5 separate regions of the Homo sapiens genome follow, and all the other regions are reported to be linked to region 2. The links are microRNA targets in miRTarBase. Many come from high-throughput screens and were not tested one by one. Region 2 holds a microRNA gene; each other region holds the end of a gene's coding sequence.

Region 1 (5,024 bases), not on the chromosome of region 2:
CCTGTCCTGGTGGGGCTGGTGTGGCCAGGCAGATAGGGAGGGAACGGGACCAGCACAGCTGACCCCCGGGCTGGGATGTCCACCCCGTCTAGTGGATCTACGGGTGGCTAAGACATTGAAGGGAGGACCTGTTTGAGGTCACAGTGAACCAGGAGTTCATCCCTCTTCACCCACACCAGGCTGCTGCCCTAAGGCAAAGGGCTGGGACCTACTCTGCTTGTAGACGAGGCCCAAGGGAGAAGCTAGAATGGAAAGGGAGGGGACCTACTGTGGGAGGGCCGGCAGGCTCCTGGGCTCTCACCATATCCTGTAGCAAGGCACAGGGGAACTGTGGTGAGCCCACTTTGCAGGGGAGCAAGGGGAGGCCCTGGGCAGGGACTAAGCTGAGCTCTGAATCACTGGGGGACTTGACTGATGCCCGGGCGCTCTCCACCCTAAAGGGAGCCATCTCTGAGACTGCACCCCAGGCAAGGGGTGGCGGAAAGGACAGCCACCTGGGTGGGGACCGCTCCAGTCTCTAGCCTGCTTTGCATGAGCATTGGAGCGGACAGACCTGGTTTGAGCGCTTTCTGTCTCGTGAGCTCCAGTGAGCCCCTTGGCTCCTCTGAGCCTTGATTTCCTCACTGTGCTTTGCCCTGGGAAACAGCTGTTCTCAAAGGTGCTCTGCCACCCCAGGCCCTTGCTCCTTTCCCTGGGTAGTTCTCCCTGCCTGGCGGGACTCACCACCAGGCTTCACCTCCACCAGGAAGCCTTCCCTGATCCCTATTGGGTATCCTCCTTGGCGATTGCCTTTTTCACGGGCAGTGGCCCCTGGACGCAAGCGTGTGCCCAGTGTGGTATAGCACCTGCTCAGAGTGGGGCCTGTGAGTGGCTGAGGAATGAGACATGGATTGCTTGTGTGACAGAGTGAGCTGTAGGGAGATGCTGGATGACCACGGATTGTGGTCGTGGTCAGGGATGCCCACCTTGGATGGGAGTTTAGGCTCATGATGGACATCACAGACAACAGGAAGGGCTTGGCACTTGGGACCCAAGGCCTGGCCTGGGGCTGCTGCTTGTGCCCACATCTGATAGGGCCTTGTCATCATAGCTGCACAACGTCACCCTGGCGCTGGAGCTGCTGAAGGACGAGGGCCTGCTCAGCTGCCCTGTCAGCCCTGAAGGTGAGTGCAAGGCAGATGCCCACACGGTGGCCAGCCCTGGGTGGCAGCCTTGTGCGAGAGCCACAGAACAGGGTGCAGGGCATTGGGGGATGAGCACGCATTGGCAGAGTCCTCTTGCCTGGCAGGGGTGGAGAATGGGCGCTTGCCAAGGTTTCTTGGGAGGGGGCACTGCAGCCCCAGGGGAAGAGGTTCTGGGGAGGGGGAGACCAAGGTCTCTGGGGACAGGTTGTCCAGAGAAGCCAGACCTTGAGGAGTTGCTGTGTTGGGGGCACCACAGGAGCATTCAGAGGAGGACTGGCCAGGAGGAGGAGGCAGTCACGCAGCAGGCGCGGGACCCAGGCCTGGAGTGACCAGCTGTCCTGGCTTCCAGGGATTCTCCTGGGATTAGCACTGAAATCCTGAATGCCAGGAAACCTTGACCACATCGGGACAGTCGGTCACTGCCACCCAGGCCTGACTGGCTGCCCTGCCCTCCTTTGGCCCGCAGATATCGTGAACAAGGATGCCAAGAGCACACTGAGGGTGCTCTATGGTCTGTTCTGCAAGCACACGCAGAAGGCACACAGGGACAGGACGCCCCATGGAGCCCCGAATTGACCCTCACTGCCTCCAAAGCCCAGAGCCTGCCTGTCAGCCCAGCTGGAGGGCCCGAGGCTGCAGGGTGTCCTCCCACAGTCCCGCTGTTTCCTGTGCATTCGTGACCCGCTTCCCTCCCACCCTGTCTCCTGTCTCCATCGTTGGATTATCTTTGAACCCCCTTGTGTGGATCATTTTGAGCCGCCTGGCCTTGCTCAGTTTATTTTAATAAAAGTATTTCTGGGAGGGATTCTGGGAACTTGACAGGGTCCTGAGGAGGGCCCTTAAACCTGCAGCCTCCCTCCCATGGGGTGAGTGTGTGTCACATCAGTCTCTCATCTCTGGGCCCAGGCTAGTGACCGCCCAGAGAGGTGGCATCACTCAGGGCTGGGGACTCTCAGGGACAGGGCCCACAGCCCCAGACCCCACCTTTTCCAGCCCAGCTCCCCACACCCACCTGCTTCTCACTCGGGAGGATGGGCCCCAGAGTCACCCTCCAGGGCAGGAGCCCGAATGGCTCCATAGCCATGCCCCCACCCACCGGGAGAAGTGGATTCAGTGACTGTCAAAGCAACCCGGGCTGTGTCCTGCAGCTGCCCTCGTGAGTTTTGCCCAAAAGTCACAAAGAAGCAATCTTCGTGGTTGATTAGTGGGTTCAGGTCATCTCCAGTCTGTCCTCGGGAGCTGTGGGTTCCCACTCGCTCCAGTGAGACTTGGCATTTTCTGCACATAAAGAAGAGTCGTGTGGGAGAATTGCACATAGTCAGTCCAGGGCATCCAGAGTGGGGCAGAGCTGATGGCTGATGGGAACCGGGGAGGAGGCTGGCGGGGAGGGGTGAGATTGGTGGGGAGGGCTGGGGCTGGCCGGGAGGGGTGGGACTGATGGGGAGGGGTGAGGCTGGCGGGGAGGGGTGAGGCTGGCGGGGAGGGGTGGGACTGGTGGGGAGGAGTGAGGCTAGTGGGCGGGTGAGGCTGGCGGGGAGGGGAGGGTTTGTGGGGACGGGTGAGGCTGGCGGGGAGGGGTGAGGCTGGTGGGGAGGGCTGGGGCCTGGTGGGGAGGAGTGGGACTTGTGGGGAGGAGTGGGACTTGTGGGGAGGGGTGAGGCTGGGGAGAAGGGCAACCACAGCCCCAGGCTGCTGCTCCTCCCTGGACCCTGAAGAGGCCTCTGGGTCTGGGGTTTTCACAGTTTGACAGCTGAGGCCTTGGGGAGGGGCTTTAGATGGGGGTTAGGGGCTAGGTCATCATTGACACCCACTGGGGGCGCCTAGGCAGATGTCCTTCGGGGGAGCAAGATGGGAGCCAGGGACGCAGTGCCAGGTCAGCCCTGGGAGCTGGTGTCTGGGTGTGAGAAGGCCTTGAGGGGTCTTCCCTTCACCTAGCCTCCCATCTGCCTGCCCTTCTCAGCTCCCAATTCACAGGGCAAACCCAAGCCCATAAGCGTGTTCCACGTGAGCACTCAGATGCACCCCTCTTCATGGATACCCACCCTACTTCCCGGCTGCCTCTGGGAAACGTGCATCCTCCCACACCAGGTACCTGGAGCCCAGCTCCTTCCACCTGCTCAGGTGCCCCCTCCATTGCGATGCCCCCTCCAGCACCTCAAATCCTCTCCTGGAGCTTCTGGGGACACAGGCTCAGCCTCTCTCAGCTGGCTTCATCCCAAAAGCCTGAAATCCAGCCCCACTTCCTGGGGCCTTTGAGTCCTCACTTGCTTGGGCCCCATCCGCTGCAGGCTGGCTCTGCCTGGCTGTTCCACGTCCTCACTCTTGTTCTATTTGACAGCAATTAAAAAAAAAGTGACTTATTTAATTACTGTAGCTTTATTGAAAAATAACTTCCCAGTTTGAAGTGTACAATTTGATGAGTTTTGACAAATGCATGCAGTCATATAACCACCACCATCGTTATCCAGACATGGGACATTCCCATCACCATGCAAGTTTCTGCATCTGTCTGCAGCCAGTTCCCTTCTCCCAGCCCCTGGCCCTGGGGACCACTGATCTGTTTTCTGTCACCATCATTTAGACTTGTCTAGAATTTCTTATAAACTGTATCCTATGGTATGTTGCTTTTTGTGTCTGATTTCTTTCACTTAGCATAATGCTATTGAGAGTATCTCCATTGTTTCTTGTATCAACAACTCATGTCCTTAGTACATTCAAAAATAAGTCCTCCAATTTTGTTCTTCATTTCAAAAATTATTTTGGTTTTTCTAGGTCTTTTTAATTCTTTTGGTTTCTACATAAAATTTAGAATCAGTTTGTCATTTTCTGCAAAAAAGCCTGCTGAAATTTTGACTGGAATTGTGTTCTTTAGATCAAACTGGGGAAAACTGACATCTTAAAAATATTGGGGAGCTAAGATCACTGATTTGAGAATATTTTTCTTTTATATAAATATTTAATGCTGGATTTTTTTTTCTAAGCACAGCTTTAGCTGCATCCCACAGATACTAATATGTTGTGTTTTCACCTTCATGAAGTTCAAAATATCTTCTAGTTTCAAATGTGACTTCCTCTTTCACTCATGGGTTATTTAGAAGTGTATAATTTCCAAATATTTTGGGATTTTTTTTCCAGCTATCTTTTGGCATTGGGTTTTGTTGTGGTCAGAGAACATGCTTTGTATGATTTAAATCACTTAAAATGCATTATGACTTGTTTTATGTACTGGATTATGGTCTATCTTGGTAAATATTCTGTATGCACTTGAAAAAGAATGTGTGCTCTGCTGTTGTTGGACAAAATGTTTCATAAATGTCAATTAGGTCAAGTGGGTTGATTATGTTGTTCAGATCTTCTATATCCTTGCTAATTTTCTCTCTACTACTTCTGTCAATTACCAAGACAGAAGTGTTAAAATCTTCAACTGTAACTGTACATTTCACTATTTCCCCTTTCAGTTCTATCAATTTTTGTTTCATACCTCATATAAGATTATAATGTCCTTTTGTCTCATTTATCCCTTGTAATATCTCTTACTCTGAAATCTGCTTTGTCTGATATTAATATAGCCACTCAAACTTTCTGTTAGTATTAGCATGGTATATGTTTTTCTATATTTTTAAACTGCGTCTGTTTAAAGTAGGTTTCTTATAGACACAAATAATTGTGTCTTTTTGTACAATCTGGAAACCTCTGCCTTTTAATTAGAGGGTTTAGTCCACTTACATTTTTTATTGTGGCAAAATATACATAGCACAAAATTAACCGTTTTAGCCATTTTAAGTGTACAATTCAGTGGCATTAAGTACATTCATACTGTTGTGCAACCATCACCTCCAT
Region 2 (3,000 bases):
GGGCCGCTCGGACCGGGCGGAGAGGAGTAAGGGCAGCGCTGCCTAAGTGAGGCAGCGAGAGCCCGCGAGAGGGAAGCAGGGCCCGGGAGAGAAGGGTCACTGCCGTGGCCAGGGAGGGAGGAACGCACAGCATGGTGGACGGCTGGGAGCTTTAGGAGGGGGCACTCCGGGACGCGTGGTGGTGGCGTCTGGAGGAAATGGAGCTAAGCGGGTGGGGTCCTGAGGTATGTGGAAGGGGCACCGAGGTATGTGGGAGAGGACGTTGGAACGTGGGCGGGGGAGTTGGACACGTTCTGTGTGGGCCGTTATGTACTTAAGAGGCAGATCGGGCGTGGCACGGTGGCTCACGCCCGTAATCCCAACACTTTGGAAGGCCGAGGCGAGTGGATCACAAGGTCAGGGGTTCAAGACCAGCCTGGCCAAGATGGTGAAACCTCGTCTCTACTAAAAACTACAAAAATTAGCCGAGCGTGGTGGCGGGCGCTGTAACCCCAGCTACTCAGGAGGCTGAGGCAGGAGAATCGCTTGAACCCGGGAGGCGGAGGTTGCAGTGAGCCGAGATCGCGCCATTGCACTCCAGCCTGGGCGACAGAGCAAGACTCCGTCTCAAAACAAAAAAGGGGGGGGCAGAGAGTAGGTGGGGTGACAGAATGGGATTTACGGACACAGAACTATCCTTTGGGGAGCAGAGTGGTATTGGGGACAGGTAGGCACGTAGCGGGGGGCAAAAGCACACGTGAGGTGCGTAATGCGCGACAGCCAAGAGGTGTGTGCGGCAGCAGTGCACGAGGGGAGGAAGCTATCCCAGGCCGCGGCAGCACGTGGAACTTGGGTCCCGCAGTCGCAGGCTGCGCTCTAGGCCGACGGAAGCAGTTCCGCCTGTATTCAGAAAACAGTTCTCAGCCCCAAAGACACAGGTTGGAAAGAACACTTTAAAAACACTTCGGCGAGGCACGGGATTGGAGCGCATCAGATCAGCAGGCGAGAGACCACAGCTCTCGCCCGCGCGCCGCGCGGCGCCCGAGGCGCAGCTTTGTGTGCGGCGAGACCCTGGGGCAGGCGCTGGGCGGGGTGGGGACATCTGACGTCAGCGCGCCCGGGAGCGCGGGCCGGGGAGGCGGGGAGCCCCCCAACTCGCAGGCCGGAGAAAACACGAGTAGCTAGGTGGGCGGCCCCAAACCTCAACTCCCGGCATTGCCAAGCAACAGCCATTCAGTTCGGTTGCTGGGACACGCGTCACCATGGCGACGGCTCCGCGCCGCGCAGTCTGAGTACTTAAAGAGCAAGCGCGCGCAACGCCCGGGCGTCGGAAAGCGGCCTTCTGGGACTCCGCAAACTCCCGTTCTCCCTCCCCCCTCCCCCTTGCCATTCCCTTTGCCTTCCGGGCGCCAAGTCTCTCTGGCCTCCAAGGTGAACCCAACTCCCCAGCGCGCCCCGGGTTCCCGGGTCGGGCCGGCTTCAGGCGGTGGGGAGCGGGATCCCGGGCCCCGGGCGGGCGGGAGGGACGGGACGCGGTGCAGTGTTGTTTTTTCCCCCGCCAATATTGCACTCGTCCCGGCCTCCGGCCCCCCCGGCCCCCCGGCCTCCCCGCTACCCCTAGCGGGGCAGCCCCCGCCCTCCTGGCTCTCCATCCCGGCGGATCTTTGATAGACTGGAGTGTCGCCGCTGCCACCGTGAGTAAGTGGGTCTGGGAGGACTTCGGGCATCCTCCCTCAGGCACCCTATCCTTCACTTAACTCCATCCAGCACCTCCCCCACCCGCATCCCCAAATCAGCCAAACTTCCCCTAGATCCCTAACTTCCACCCTCCCAGGCTTTCTCTTCTACTCGCCGATTCCTTCCACTTCCCCACCCTATCCCGGAAAATCCCTAAAATAAGCAGTTGCACTGGCTTAGAAAACAACCAAAACTTTATGGCAATGTGCTGTCATCTTTCCTGGGGTTAGTGCCTGAGTAATACCCCTTGAAAACTTCTCATCCCCTGAAGGGTGGGGTGACCACCCCTCTGGGACTGAACTCCTTTTGGGAGCCAGAGAAGGGTCTGTGGTTGGCTGAGGGGCTGTAGCTTAGACCTCAGGGTCTCCAGGATGGACCCCAAGGCCAAAGGGTCTAAAATTCTGAATTCTGAATCTGGTGGCCTCCTCCTCACACCCTTCCCTGGAGCAGCTGCCTCCGGAATGGCTCAAAGTCCTCAGGCACTGTGTCTGAAGAAGGGGAAATAAGTAAGGTCAGAGGATGTGGCTCTCCCACAAGGCATGAAGGATTAGGTTGATCTCAATCAGCCACCTCACCATTGCATCGATACTGGAGATTGGACCAAATTATGTTTTCTTGGGAGAAGCAGAATACACCAAGACGCCCCCCTCGCATGGATGTGTCAATGATCACCCCAGAATCCGCCACAAGCTGGGGTCCCTCATAGAGCTTCACCCTGTCCAGGATTCCAGGATAGGAGTATCCATTGGTGCTAGGGTGCCAGTGGGCACTGTGCCACCATGCCTGGGGCCTTGCTTTTCCCCAGCCCCCCTTGAGCTCACCAGGCCTGAGAGAGAAGGGAGGGAGGGAAAGGGAGGCAGGAAGGAGAGGGAAGGGGGGTGCTTTTCTCAGGCCTGGGGCCCCTAGCTCTTTGTCCAGCTCCTTTTGCATCTCAAAGCACCAGCCGCATTCCAAGCGAGGATTGGGTTGCCATGACAATAAGCACAATGGGCTGGGGGGTGAAGTCACCCGCTTCCCAGGCTCTAGTCCACCCCCTTTTATCCCCTGTCCTGGCACCCCACAGCCCCAGGCACCTTAAAGGGGAACCAACCCAGGTTCCTGGACTCTGGGCTCTTGGCCATGGAAAGTCCAGCCTCTAAGCAGACCCATTTCCCCTCCCTTCCTGTTCATCTCCACCAACTAGGGCTACTTGTTGGAGAGAAATGCAAAGTTGTGGACAAAGTGTTGAACCGAGGCCTGTGAAGTCAGGGCCTTGATTTTCTCTTCTGTAAATGATGATGCCTT
Region 3 (3,000 bases), not on the chromosome of region 2:
ACTACGTCCACAAAAATTCTTTCTGACCCACAAATTTGAATTGACTTTGTCCTCAATTGTCCCTGCCACACCCTGAGCCATATCCACCTCTTTCTGTTCCTCATGAAGCTAGGAAGATACAAGTATATGCTTGTAGCAAATGCACTCTCAACTACTAACTACCTTCAATAAAACAGATTCCCAAAAAGATGAAATCAGAAAAGGAAAGTGCCTCAGCACTGTCTTCATAAGGTTTAGGGTCCACCTAAATTTAGTTTCATCCTGGGGCAGGTAGATACATGATTGTTCATATACTGAAAAAAAAATAAGTAGGAAGAAAATTCATAGATAATGCCAGCAGAAATTCGCACACAGCCAAAATTATGAACATATTGACTGACATCCAAATGTTTCCTTAAATTGCAGTAAAAGACAAAATTGTGAACCTTAAAATTATTTACCTCATCCAAAAGGAAAAAAAATGGCATCCCAATTATTATTTGGGAGTGGTTGGGTGGGGGGGGGTGAGCGAGTCTCAAAAACATGCTTTATCTTTAAATAGGTTGTATGTTCACTATGTACCAAGGCATGCAGAAAAAAAAAAATGAAATGGTTGACATTCTATATATCTCTGTTTTGGTGCATTCCCTTAGATTTAAAGGGGGCAGTTTGGACATTTTCCCAAAAATAATTATGACAGGGACTAGTAGAAGAGAGCTGAGTTCTAACCATTTTTGCCTAGTTCTAGCTGTGTTAGTGCTTAGAAGTGCTTAGCTGGTGCCTACCATTTAAATAGCAAATAGTAAGCTGGAAAATGAGTTAAGAGCAGTATTGGGGCCAAACTTGCTTATGTCCACAATTCTCTTGACTTGGTAATTCTCATACCACACTGTATTAAGATACATAATTTCAGCATCCTATTTAATGATCCTTTAGAGCAGTTATCAGTTACTGCCTAACAGAATTTCAGTATTCACAAATGGTTATCAGATAATCCAGTCACAGTCAGGTCTGTCCTCCCCAAACAGAAGCAGCAAGTTCTGCCTTCCAAGTATGTCCCCCTAAAATGACTTGAATCAATATCACTCGGTTCCTCCCCTCTAATGTGGCTGGACTGCAAAGAAAAAACAGAGCGCCCACATAAATGAAATTAAAATCTGCACATGAAATATGGCAACCTATACCATGTAAGGGGAATTCTATACTAAGGGATTGAGATTCATTTCTGACAAGGACTTACACAATTAAATGTTTTGGAAACAGAAAAATGTGCAGGACTTTCCTTTGGGGGTTCTGTCACATTCTAGACTCCAAGAAGGGTAAAAGTAAACTTTCTTATTTTTTTGTTTCTTTTATCTGTTGTCCAAGGTACAGGTTACAAAGAAGTCCCATTCCCTTTTCTTTGCAACAAGAGTAGTAAATACTACTGAAGAAATGCTAAAATAAATAGCCCTAGTTCTGTAACCTTACAGGGTTCAAGTTACCAGATTCAGGCCAAATTAGCAATTGCTCTGAGGAGATTTTGAAAGAAACAGCCGACAGGAAGACTTTTAAGACCTTCTACTCGAAGAGTAAAGGATGAATGAACTATGGACAGAACACCGGGAGGTCACATCTTGAAAAAAACTAGTGAAAAGAGAAATACCAGAAAAGGGATTTCTAAGTGGGTTTTCTCCCCCTACTGTTAGCATAATTATATTTTTCTGCTGACTGGTTAACACTGATTAAATGCTGATAAAGTGACAATCGTAAGCATACTTTTAGAAACAAATACATATACTATGCTGCCATCACATTACAACTTTAAAAGAAAACCTCTCAAACAAATTTATGAAAGTAGAAGTCCCTCCCAGAAATTATTGACTGCCTTTTATCCACTCTTAGACCATATGTTATTCTGAAAACTACATAAAAATACTATTCCTTAAAGGTGTTAAAAGTAAGGCTGCCAGGGTGTCTATAAAATGCCAGTCATCAAAACTATGGAAAAACAGTGCTTACGTTTAGAAAAATAAGATCACAGGACCTCAGATGTATTGTAGGTGGCCCTTAACTACCTGTAGTTTAAAAGTTTTGCTATATGGTACAGTGTAAAACATACTGAATTATAAATTCCATAGGGGAAGTAAACATAGAACCCACAACAACTCAGCTCCTCTTAGGAGTTATCACTGAAAATAACAATGTGTTTGTGTTCCATGATCTCTGAAGAACAAAAAATTGGTTTACAGTTTGAAACACATTCTTCTTTCAAGAATAAAGTTACTTATACCATTTTTAAACCACCAAAGTCCTACCCAGAAAACTCTGAACTTTCCTGTCTTCCATCATAATTCTGAATATCAGTGGCAAATCAGAATCTCTTAGGTGAATCTTTATGAATCAAGTGATTTTTCAAAGCATGATATGCCTTGGTAGAAATGGACTGCTCTTAAATTCCCACAAAATAAACAAGCCAGGTGATAAAGAAACAATATTCCCGCCCCTTCTCTCTTCTGTTTCTTCCTTATCGTAATTAGGCAGAGCAAATGACACTGCCTCCACAAAATAAGAATTATCAACAGTAATAATATTAAAAAAAATAAAAGGTATGTCAACATTTGAGGAAAGGTGGGATTGTAAGTGCAGTATTTCTTCATGTGCAGTTCTTTACTTCATAGGGGTCCCCTTTGGAATGAAAAGGCCTAGTGGAATGTGTGCTCCCCTCGAACAATGTGTGATGAAAACTCATAACGGTCCTGGCTTCTGTAGCCACAGATGTTGCATTCCAGTGGGTCCCGGTAGCCATGGCAACCCATGTGAATGGTGTACATGACATGGTCTAGGAAAAGGACTCGGCAGTGCTCACACTTGAAGGCCCTAATCTGTTCTCCTTCTCCATTGAAGACCTTGTAGATGTCCTTCAGAGAGCCCTTAGGAGCCTTGGTAGTATCCAAAGCTTTGACATCCTCCTTCATGTAAGCTGGGCTTTGTTTCCTCTTGGGATTTAAGGCAGGGTGTCCTTGGTAGGACTGGTGGTCA
Region 4 (5,024 bases), not on the chromosome of region 2:
GGTTATCATTTAAAAGAAAGCTTTATACAAAATACTTTTCAATAAAGAGATTATTAATATTTGCTTTTGTGCTTTTTCTTTAGATTTTAGCCTTCATCCTAATAAGAAACATCCCTGGATATGCCCGTTCAGTTTACAGTTCATTTTTTGCTTGGTTTGGAAAAATTTCATTAGAGGTTGGTACATTAATATTTTGCTTATCTTACACAGCCAGGTGTTTCATGTTTGTGTATGTACGTGTGTGTGTGTAAATATCACACATATATGTGAGTATGAAAATCGGACGTACTTTTTTCTAAACTGAAGCTATTATGGAATTACAGGGAAAAGACTTAGAACTTTCAACAATACTAAAGTATTTTGGAATGTTTTTAAGCCTTATTTTTAAATGACTAGATATAGATTACTTGCAAAATATTATTTACGTTGTCTTGAGCTTTCAAGCACAACCAAGATGCTGAGACCAAGAGAGAAAAATATTAGACCAGGTATATAAATGAAATCAAACTGAGGGGATTTTGATTTTTTGTTCATCTCCATAATTAAATATATTACTGGAATTCAGTTTATTGATGCATACCATAATAAAATTTACCCTTATTATGATTGGAAATTGTGGGAGAAAGTATAAACTCATTACATTTTGTGTAAGATACATAATATGAAATTATCTACAAAATCAGTTTGAACAGTAGGTTTTAAAATGTATTCTGAGTAGTCTAAGCTTTATTATTTGAAATAGAATGTTTTAAAACAATTTATATTGTAATAACAACATATATTTTAGAGTTTTTAGAGTATAGGATTTATTAAATTGTCTCTTAAAATAGGGAAAATAAATTCCTCTTTGAGTTCTTGAATAATTGTTCTATTATTTTCTTTGGTCTCATTTATAAGAGAGATTGTATTAGCAGTTGGAGTTCTAAGGAGTAGACTGCAGTGGACTTTTCAGGGCCAGTAGTGAGACAGAATAAAATGGTTTTAGGAAAGCCTTCTAATGTTATTATGCAACCAAATTGTTTAAATTAGGGAAAACTGTAATTTATTCATGGACCCTCTATAAATATCTGACTTAAATATTTTTTCTCCTAGCTATTTATTTGCCAGTATCACATATGGCTGGCAGCGGACACAAGGGGTATCTTGGTACTGATACCTGGAAACCCTATGCTCAACATCATTGTCAGCACTTTCATATTTGTTTGTGTGGCACATGAAATTTCTCAGATCACTAATGATCTTGCACAGATTATTATTCCTAAAGATAACTCATCTCTCTTGAAAAGGTTGGCATGTATAGCTGCATTTTTTTGTGGACTCCTCATCTTATCATCCATTCAAGATAAATCAAAACATTAGGTTCCAAAAATTCTAAAAAACCTAAACTCTTCAGGCTACCTTTGTGTGTCTCTAGAAGAGAAAAGCATCTATCTGGAGATATAAATGTGTATGTAAATATAAACGTTTGTGGCAAGAGGACAGTTCTGTGACATCTGTTGAACATATGTGGTTGTATATATTGGAAATGTACATATCCAATATGAAATACTAAAACAAACAAACAAACAAAAAACCAGAATGCATTGTATAGGATTGCATGTGAAGTCTTTTCTACTGAATCTATATTTCCATTTGTAAGTGATTTTAAGTTAACATATGAAGGCAGGGAAATGATTACCTTTCCAGTAAAAAGTATAGATAATTTAATTAACTTAGTGACACCACCAAGTGTTTTGATATAACTAAATTTGTGGTAATAAGACTGTCTGCACCTGTATTCATTGTGGAACTTCCTCTTTCATTGGAAACTTTCTTACTCAAGAATGACGGCAGTATTGTTTTCTTATATGTGCAATGAAGTGGAATGATAAACAGTATGCCTTTAATTTATATGTGTTCTTGTTCTGATGTTGTTTCCTGAAATGATTTTTCTTCCTAACTGTGGTTTTCGGGTATGCAAGCCTAAATCTTTGTACACTTTGTCTCACAGAATAGTTCTGAGGCTCCATGACAGGGTTTTGTCATTGTTGATGTTATTGTTGCTTCGTTTTATAAAAAAGCCAAAATTTTTTTTCCAATCCAAACGTTCACCTGTTTCCTTTCCTCAAGCTATACCAGTGTAATACCAGTTACCCTGTGGATCCATTTAATATGTTATCCCCACTAATTAATTTTCGTATATTATTTCCAATATTTGGAAAGCTCTTTATAGCCATTTGGTATTTCCTATTACCCACCTCCTATTTTAAATATTTATCAGTCTAAACTTGTGCAGTGTAGTAAACATGCAAGTTGTTACGATTGAGCTGTATTACCATAAGTAGAATTTTAAGTAAACTGGTGAATTTGGGCAATAAATGTTTTTGCTTTTTGTTTGATTTTTTTTTACAAGCTAACTGTTAGAGGTATACATTTATTTATCTGTTGTACAGATTTGATTATGATTTTAATGTTTGAAAGATTGCACTTGTTTGCTTTTACTATATGTGGGGTAAAATATATTTTCTGTTCACAGTATATGAAAATATGGAGTAATTTAAACAGTAAATAAACATTCTGTGGATGCTTATTTTTGTATTGGCAAAGTATCAATTAAACTATATGTGTTCTTTTTCAAAAATGCTGGATCCATTCATGATTGGTTCAAATATCTAATTATTTCCTCAACTTAAATTTGCTTTTTAAATTGCTTAATATGTAGGGGTAGGTTACCAAATGATAGTTGGATAAGGAATCATTTAGTTATCAGAGCTTCAGAGGGTCATCTGCTTTCCACCAAGGAAGTTTAAGCATTATGGTTCATTAGTGATTTTGCTTGAAGATTTTAAAAATGTACTTATTATTTATTTAGCACTGGATTTATGTGCTACTGATATACCTCCATTAATAGAGGAATATTTCTTGGACAGAGATGTGTGTTCTTTCCTTTTCTCTCTTCTTTTGCCCTTACTTAATCTTTTGACATTTCCCAGATAGACAATTGTAATGATTCATTGCTCTGCCTCCTAGACTGCAGCCTTATAAGTAGAGAATAGTATAGTTATAAATCAAAAACTTCCAAGTACTGTGATCACATTATTCTTGTTCATGTAGCTTGCCAATGAGTAGAGTGCATTTTAATTTAGCTTGTAAGTTTTATCACCTGAAAAAGATTCTTCTTGATGAAACAATTGAAAAAGAAAGATGACCAGTCTCCCTGTGTATTTTGGAAGCACTTATGTCTTCAGTAGGGATGCCGCAGTGAATATATGCTTTTCTCTCCTATTTGAACTGAAGCCTAAAACTTACCTGGTGAGCCCTGTTTCTTCATCACTTGTTCTTATTTAATATAAAGCACTATTTTTTACATATAATTATATAATAATCTGTATAATTTAAAAATAATTTATTTGTAGTTAAAAATATTTTTTATATTTGATTTTCTTAATTAGTCTTAAAAGGTTATTGTGGAAGTTGCCACAATGATAGCACCTATATATACGGTAAATGTCTTAATATTTTATTTTCTGCATCGACTCAGATACTGACCATTTGCATTACTCAATCATACCATTCTTTAGAATAAGATTTTTAACAGGATGTTTAGATATGCTAAAGTTGAGATAAAACCACAGAGGTTCTCTAAATTCAGATTTTTCTGTAATAGAAATCACAGTCAGAAATCTACCATCTGGCTTTAAAAGGTACTTGCTTGACTGAATTCTACCTCAATCGTTCCTCCTTTCCTTTGCCAAAACTTCCCATTTTTGTGGGTAGCCAATAGAAGCATTAAAAATTCAGCCCATCTAAATTAATAATGTTTTACAAGGATGTGGGACCCAAGTTCATTTATTATTCTATTCTCGAATGACTTTATACTAAAACCTTAAAACGGGAATGCATCCTGGATATAGTCATTGATATCATAAACTGGATGTGTTCCATGGCTTGCATTGCAGACAATTCAGTGTTTTGTGTAATGAATTGGATGTACCACATGGGAGTCTGTTGCATAACAGGAGATTAGGTAGTATTGTACTTACAGATTTTTGGAACAGTTGAAAGAAATTCAATTCTTCACATCATTCAAGAGAAAAATTACCTTTTTAGCTTAATAGTGAAGACTGAAATAAAGATTGACAATTTTGGTTGGCAGTTCAATCCATCTTACCACTTTGAATATTTCTCTGCAAAGACATTCAAAAATGATTGCATACATTTATGACTTAATTTGTTCATTCTTGTGTTCATTCCCCAAATCATAATTGTGATTTGGGGAAACTTATTTGGCAAGGTGTATTCTGGCTCATTTTCTTATTCTAAAAATGGTTTCCAGAAAAGGAAGTGGTCGTCCAAACTATATTCCCAAAATTGTGGTGTTTGATGACTGATTTCCAGAATAGATTTCTTATTTTATTTAATTAATTAATTAATTTTTTGAGGCAGGGTCTTACTCTGTCACCTAGGCTGGAGTGCAGTGGCGTGATCTTGGCTTACTGCAACCTCCGCCTCCTGGGTTCAAGCAATTCTCCTGCCTCAGCCTCCTGAGTAGCTGGAATTACAGGTGCCTGCCACCATACCTGGCTAATTTTTGTATTTTTAGTAGAGTTGGGGTTTCACCCTGTTGGCCAAGCTGGTCTCCAATTCCTGGCCTCAAGCGATCCACCTGCCTCAGCCTCCCAAAGTGCTGGGATTACAGGCGTGAGCCACTGTGCCTGGCCTGATTTTCTGATTTTAAATCTTACAAAAATTTAATGGCACTATTTGTTCTGCCTTTCCATATTAATAGTCATAGTAGAAACAAGGAGACACAAATGGAAGCTATTTAACTGGCATTCAATGTGGTACCAGAACCTAAATATAACAATATTGGAATACCCAAATTCTGTATATATGTCTGTGTGTGTGTGTGTGTGTGTGTGTGTGTATGTGTGTGTGTGTGTGTGTATATATATATGTATATATATGGAATAATTTCTTTTACAATTACGCAGACATTTATGTTCAAAAGTAACCATTATGAACAATTTGGGGGAAATATGAAA
Region 5 (4,941 bases), not on the chromosome of region 2:
CCAGGGAAATGAAGATAAATATCCTAGAATAATGGGACTTTCCTCTCAAAGGACAATTGGAATCCCTTTTTTTTTTTTTTTTTTTTTTTTTTTTTGAGATGGAGTCTCATTCTGTTGCCCAGGCTGGAGTGCAGTGGCGTGATCTCTGCTCACTGCAACCTCCGCCTCCCACGTTGAAGCGATTCTCCTGCCTCAGCCTCCCAAGCAGCTGGGACTACAGGCACGCACCACCACGCCTGGCTAATTTTTGTATTTTTAGTAGAGATGGGGTTTCACCATGTTGGTCAGGCTGGTCTTGAACTCCTGACCTCAGGTGATCCACCTGCCTCGGCCTCCCAAAGTGCTGGGATTACAGGCATGAGCCACCATGCCCGGCCTTGGAGTCCCTTTGGAAGTTTGGTAACTCAAGGGTAGCTGAAATTCTTTGAAAAAAAGAAAAGATGAGGGGAAGTGGCTAGTGATTATTTCCTTTCCTTTTTTTTCCATAGTCACAGCATCAAAAAGTGTGGGTTTGAAGTCAGAAAAATCCAGACAGGTTTGTGTTTTGGCTTTGCCAACAATCAGCTGAGTGACAATGAGACAGTTATATAACTACTCATCCCTCCCCCCACAATGCATATATAGCTCCCAGCACCCCTAGAAGAGTCTAACGGACAGGAGGGGCTACTCCAAACAGGAAGGGAAGAAGAAATATGACAAGAGGAATGTAGAGGGGTGGATGGAAGAGAGGCCACAATTTTCTGACTTCATTCCTGTGCAGCTTGTTGGTGTCCCTAAGAACATTAGCCTTTGTGAGCAGGGAAATAAAGAGGATCAGAGATGAGACATTTCCAGATCAGCACAAAGTTTATTAGCCATTTCTGCTCAGAAGAGCCCCTTTCTGAACAGGACTGTTCCTCTGACATAACAGACAAGAAACAGCCACCTGTGCAGGGCCTTTCCTTTATATCTCAAGCTACATCAGGAGAACATCTTGGAGCAATGTCAGTTGCCCCCTGGGGTTCCCTGGGAATAGCTAAGGTGTGAGATTGTCCAGAGTCCTATGACAGACCTTCAAGGTTTTAAGTTCCACAGACTTGGACTTTGTCCAGGTCCACAACCAACGAATAGAAACCTTCCTTTCAGGTAAACAACATATTGTACAAAAAAGGGAGGATGATAACATAATAGAGAAAGAGCTAAGACCCATTGCTTCTCCTCTGTAAAAACACCAAACTTTATCCAATACTATAAAAAAGAAATTCCTGCTGGGAACAGTGGCTCACGCCTGTAATCCCAGCACTCTGGGAGGCCGAGGTGGACAGATCACTTGAGGTCAGGAGTTCGAGACCAGCCTGACCAACATGGAGAAACCCCGTCTCTACTAAAAATACAAAATTAGCTGGGCATGGTGGTGCAGATCTGTAATCCCAGCTACTGGGGAGGCTGAGGCAGGAGAGTCACTTGAACCCGGAAGGCGGAGGTTGCAGTGAGCCGAGATCACACCATTGCACTCCAGCCTGGACAACAAGAGAGAAACTCCATCTCAAAAAAAAAAAAAAAAAAATCCTGGCCAAGCACAGTGGCTCATGCCTATAATCCCAGCACTTTGGGAGGCCAAGGCGTGAGGATCACTTGAGCCCAGTTCAAGACCAGCCTGGGCAATATAGCAAGACCCTGTCTTTAAAAAAAAAAAATAGGGCATGGTGGCGCATGCCATGGTGCTAGCTACCCAGGAGGCTGAGGTAGGAGGATTGCTTGAACCCAGGAGGTTGAGGCTGCAGTGAGCTGTGATTGCACCATTGCACTCTAGCCTGGGCAACAGAGTGAGACCCTGTTTAAAAAAAAAAAAATCCCCAGCAATCCTACCATCCCCAGCCTCCAGGAGTGATCTGTCTCCTAAGCATTGAGAAAGTGGAGACTAGGTAGCATAAACTAGTGTGCAAAGCTTCACACTCACATTAGATTGGCAGGATCATTTTATGGGGGAGGAACAGGTACAGCCAGCTTAGGGGCAGAGTAGGGGAGGAGACTGGTAAGAAAAAGAGGTCTACTTCCTATCCATCCCTTTCTTCAGGGTAGAGTTTCACATGGTAGGCTAAGGCAGAAAGCTCTCAACCCCTGCAGGAAAAGAAGAAATTCAGGGCTTGAGCCAGGAGTAAAGGAAAGAAGAAAGCAAGTTATCCTAGACATGAAGGAATGGAAGAAAGAAATGGAGTCCTATCCTGTGTCTGTGCTCCCCACCAAGGGCCAATGCCAGTATGCACCAGTTTAGCCTAACCAACTATTAAAATGTTGAAATCCTTCCATACTGGAAAGAAGCCACTGCCCTGAGCCCTCCAAGTACCTGTCAACTGCCCTGGCCTGCCCCCAGGACCCCTATACCTCCCAGCACAGCAGGCAGCCTCCAGGATCCTATTTAGACCTATGGCTCAGCATCTGTTCTGATTCATTGTTGTCCCCTCTGTACCCATGTTATGCTTTCACCTCTCACCCCAATGGAGTCACACAGGCCTGAGTTTGAACAGTTAACACAGCTTGGAAGGGACACATGCCTGATTCCCATCCTTGGAGAACAATATCATGCTATGAGGAGTAGGAAGGGCAAGAGATATGAAAAGAACAGAGGAAATGTGGTTCCTAGAAGTCAGAAGGCATCAAGGGTCCATCAGTGTAGAAGTGGCTGGGGCGGGAGACGTAAACCTCATCCACGGTGTTCTGGCCAGCCAACAGTGGGTCACCATTCGGCATGATTTCTTCAATCTTTACACAGTTTCTGAAGACTAGGTAATCCAGAGAGAAAAGTGAGGCCCCGATCTTAGTTAGGAGTTCCCAACCCAGCAGGGAAAGGGAGGGAGGATGGCAGGAAAGGCCTGGGAAGAGCCTGAGTGGGAACTTGTGGGATGAAAGAGCAGGGAGGTGGGGGAAGGCATGTGTAATTCCTAAAAAAAGGAATCACAGAATGGACCTCTCTCCAATGAGGAGCTTGGAGTTCAGCTTTTTCTGTAATGGGAGAGGGAGAAGAGGTAGGAAAGGGAATGTGTGCCATCTTCCATAGCTCCATCTCATCACTTACTTTCCATTGGCTCAGTGTTCAAATGTCTCAGATCACAGGGCAAATCTGGCTCTGGCACTGGCTGTGATACAGGTCCTTGGTCTGGCTCTGGCACTGTTTGTGATACCATGCATAGTGTGGGCTCTATCACAGGCTCCAGAGTGGACTCCAGCACAGACTCTAGCTCTGGCCCCAGATCCAGCCCTGCCTTCAGCAGTGGCTCTAAGTCCAGGCTGAGCTCTGGCTCTGGCACCAGCCCTAGTTCCAGCTCTAATGACTCCAGCTCTGGCTCTGGCTTAAGCTCCAGCGGTTGTTGCAGTTCATCCACCTGTCTGGATACCCAAAGACAGACAAAGGGGCAGGGCTCAGTGGTTCAAATGAAATCAGGAATGGTAGAATAAGCAGAAGCTAGTCTAAGAAGGCAGTAGGGCGGAGGGCTAAAGAGCATGGGTTTGGAATCAGGCCTCCTGGAGTTTGAATCCTGGCTGGGGGACCTTAGGCAAGTGGCCTAACTTTTCTGAGCCTCAGATTTATCATCTATAAATGAGAACAATACCTAGTAATTCTTGAGAGGCAGTAGGGTGGTTAAAATCAGGGCTACGGAATCTAACAGACCTGTATCATTAGCCACGTACCTTAGGTACAAAACTTGACTACTCTAAATCCAGTTCCTTAGCTGAAAACAGTAACAGTGTTTACTTCACAGGACTATTTTGTAGATTCAATAAAATGAGAAAATAAATGCAAACCATTTAGCCTAGTGCCTGGCGCATAATAAACTCTCAGGCCAGGCATGGTGGCTCACACCTGTAATCCAAGCACTTTGGGAGGCTGAGGCGGGCAGATCACTTGAGGCCAGGAGCTCATGACCAGCCTGGCCAACATGGTGAAACCCTGTTTCTACTAAAAATACAAAAGTTAGGCCGGGTGCAGAGGCTCACGCCTGTAATCCCAGCACTTTGGGAGGCCAAGGTGGGCGGATCATGAGGTCAGGAGTTTGAGACCAGCCTGGCCAATATGGTAAAACCCTGTCTCTACTAAAAATACAAAAATTAGCCAGGTGTGGTGGTTGTGCGCGCTTGTAGTCCCAGCTACTCAGGAGGCTGAGGCAGGAGAATTGCTTGAGCCTGGGAGGCAGAGGTTGCAGTGAGCTGAGATCGTGCCACTGCACTCCAGCCTGGGCAACAGGGCGAGACTCTGTCTCAAAAAAAAAACAAAAATTAACCAGGCATGGGTGGCGCTCGCCTGTAATCCCAGCTACTCAGTAGGCTGAGGCAGGAGAATTGCTTGAGCCTGGGAGGCAGAGGTTGCAGTGAGCTGAAATTGCACCACTGCACTCCAGCCCGGGCAATGAGAGTGAGACTGTCTCAAAAAAAAAAAAAAAAAAAAAAAAAATTCTATCCCCAGCCAAGTGCCATGGCTCATTCCTACAATCCCGGCAATTTGGGAGGCCAAGGCAGGAGACTGCTTGAGGCCAGGAGTTCAAGACCAGCCTGGGCAACACAGTGATACCCCATCCCTACAAAAAATTTAAAAAATTAGCTGAGTGTGATTGAGTGTGATGGCGTGTGCCTGTAGTCTCAGCTACTTGGGAGGCTGAGGCAGGAGCATTGCTTCAACCCCTAGGTCAAGGCTGCAGTGAGTCATGATTATACCACTGCACTCCAGCCTGGATAACAGAGACCCTGTCTCAAAAAAAAAAAAAAAAAAAAAAAAAAAAAATATATATATATGCGGGGTGTGGTGGCTCACGCCTGTAATCCCTGCATTTTGGGAGGCCAAGGTGGGTGGATTGCTTGAGTCCAGGAGTTCAAGAACAGCCTGGGCAACATGGTAAGACCCCATCTCTACAAAAAATACAAAAAAAATTAGCTGAGTTTGGTGATGCATGCCTGTATTGCTTGAGC

Evidence for each region. The annotated mature microRNA hsa-miR-92b-3p reads UAUUGCACUCGUCCCGGCCUCC and lies in region 2 at 1,542-1,563, shown strand. An mRNA with a match to its seed (bases 2 to 7 or 8) in the 3' UTR can be bound and repressed. Matches are read on the target gene's strand: a 7mer-m8 pairs with bases 2 to 8, a 7mer-A1 pairs with bases 2 to 7 and ends in A, and an 8mer does both.
Region 1: miRTarBase lists PARVG as a target of hsa-miR-92b-3p. The part of its 3' UTR that is shown has no 7-base or 8-base seed match.
Region 3: miRTarBase lists IKZF2 as a target of hsa-miR-92b-3p. The part of its 3' UTR that is shown has no 7-base or 8-base seed match.
Region 4: miRTarBase lists CASD1 as a target of hsa-miR-92b-3p. Seed matches in the 3' UTR shown: 7mer-m8 at 1,850-1,856.
Region 5: miRTarBase lists STAT2 as a target of hsa-miR-92b-3p. Seed matches in the 3' UTR shown: 7mer-m8 at 1,781-1,787, 7mer-m8 at 1,773-1,779 and 7mer-m8 at 1,487-1,493.

The regions. Positions count from the first base shown.
Region 1 is chr22:44,204,667-44,209,690 of GRCh38, forward strand. PARVG (parvin gamma) reads left to right here. Exons shown (of 14, transcript NM_022141.7): 13 at 1,091-1,163; 14 at 1,651-3,803. The coding sequence ends at 1,760. Among named protein-coding and RNA genes, the nearest start is that of PARVG, 26 kb to the left of the region's middle. RefSeq lists an enhancer at 1-473.
Region 2 is chr1:155,193,696-155,196,695 of GRCh38, forward strand. It overlaps MIR92B (microRNA 92b), which reads left to right and starts at 1,482; the gene lies at 1,482-1,577. It overlaps THBS3 (thrombospondin 3), which reads right to left. Exons shown (of 23, transcript NM_007112.5): 22 at 2,292-2,431; 23 at 1,893-2,204. The coding sequence ends at 2,146. It overlaps THBS3-AS1 (THBS3 antisense RNA 1), which reads left to right and starts at 1,302. Exons shown (of 6, transcript NR_183238.1): 1 at 1,302-1,677. RefSeq lists a silencer at 985-1,314 and an enhancer at 2,471-3,000.
Region 3 is chr2:213,004,697-213,007,696 of GRCh38, forward strand. IKZF2 (IKAROS family zinc finger 2) reads right to left here. Exons shown (of 9, transcript NM_001387220.1): 9 at 1-3,000. The coding sequence ends at 2,664. Among named protein-coding and RNA genes, the nearest start is that of MIR4776-2, 80 kb to the left of the region's middle.
Region 4 is chr7:94,554,400-94,559,423 of GRCh38, forward strand. CASD1 (CAS1 domain sialic acid O acetyltransferase 1) reads left to right here. Exons shown (of 18, transcript NM_022900.5): 17 at 84-176; 18 at 1,093-2,620. The coding sequence ends at 1,359. It overlaps LOC105375404 (a long non-coding RNA gene), which reads right to left and starts at 4,096. Exons shown (of 4, transcript XR_007060433.1): 1 at 4,023-4,096. RefSeq lists an enhancer at 1,711-1,760.
Region 5 is chr12:56,340,770-56,345,710 of GRCh38, forward strand. It overlaps STAT2 (signal transducer and activator of transcription 2), which reads right to left. Exons shown (of 24, transcript NM_005419.4): 23 at 3,056-3,366; 24 at 828-2,762. The coding sequence ends at 2,620. Among named protein-coding and RNA genes, the nearest start is that of IL23A, 4.4 kb to the left of the region's middle.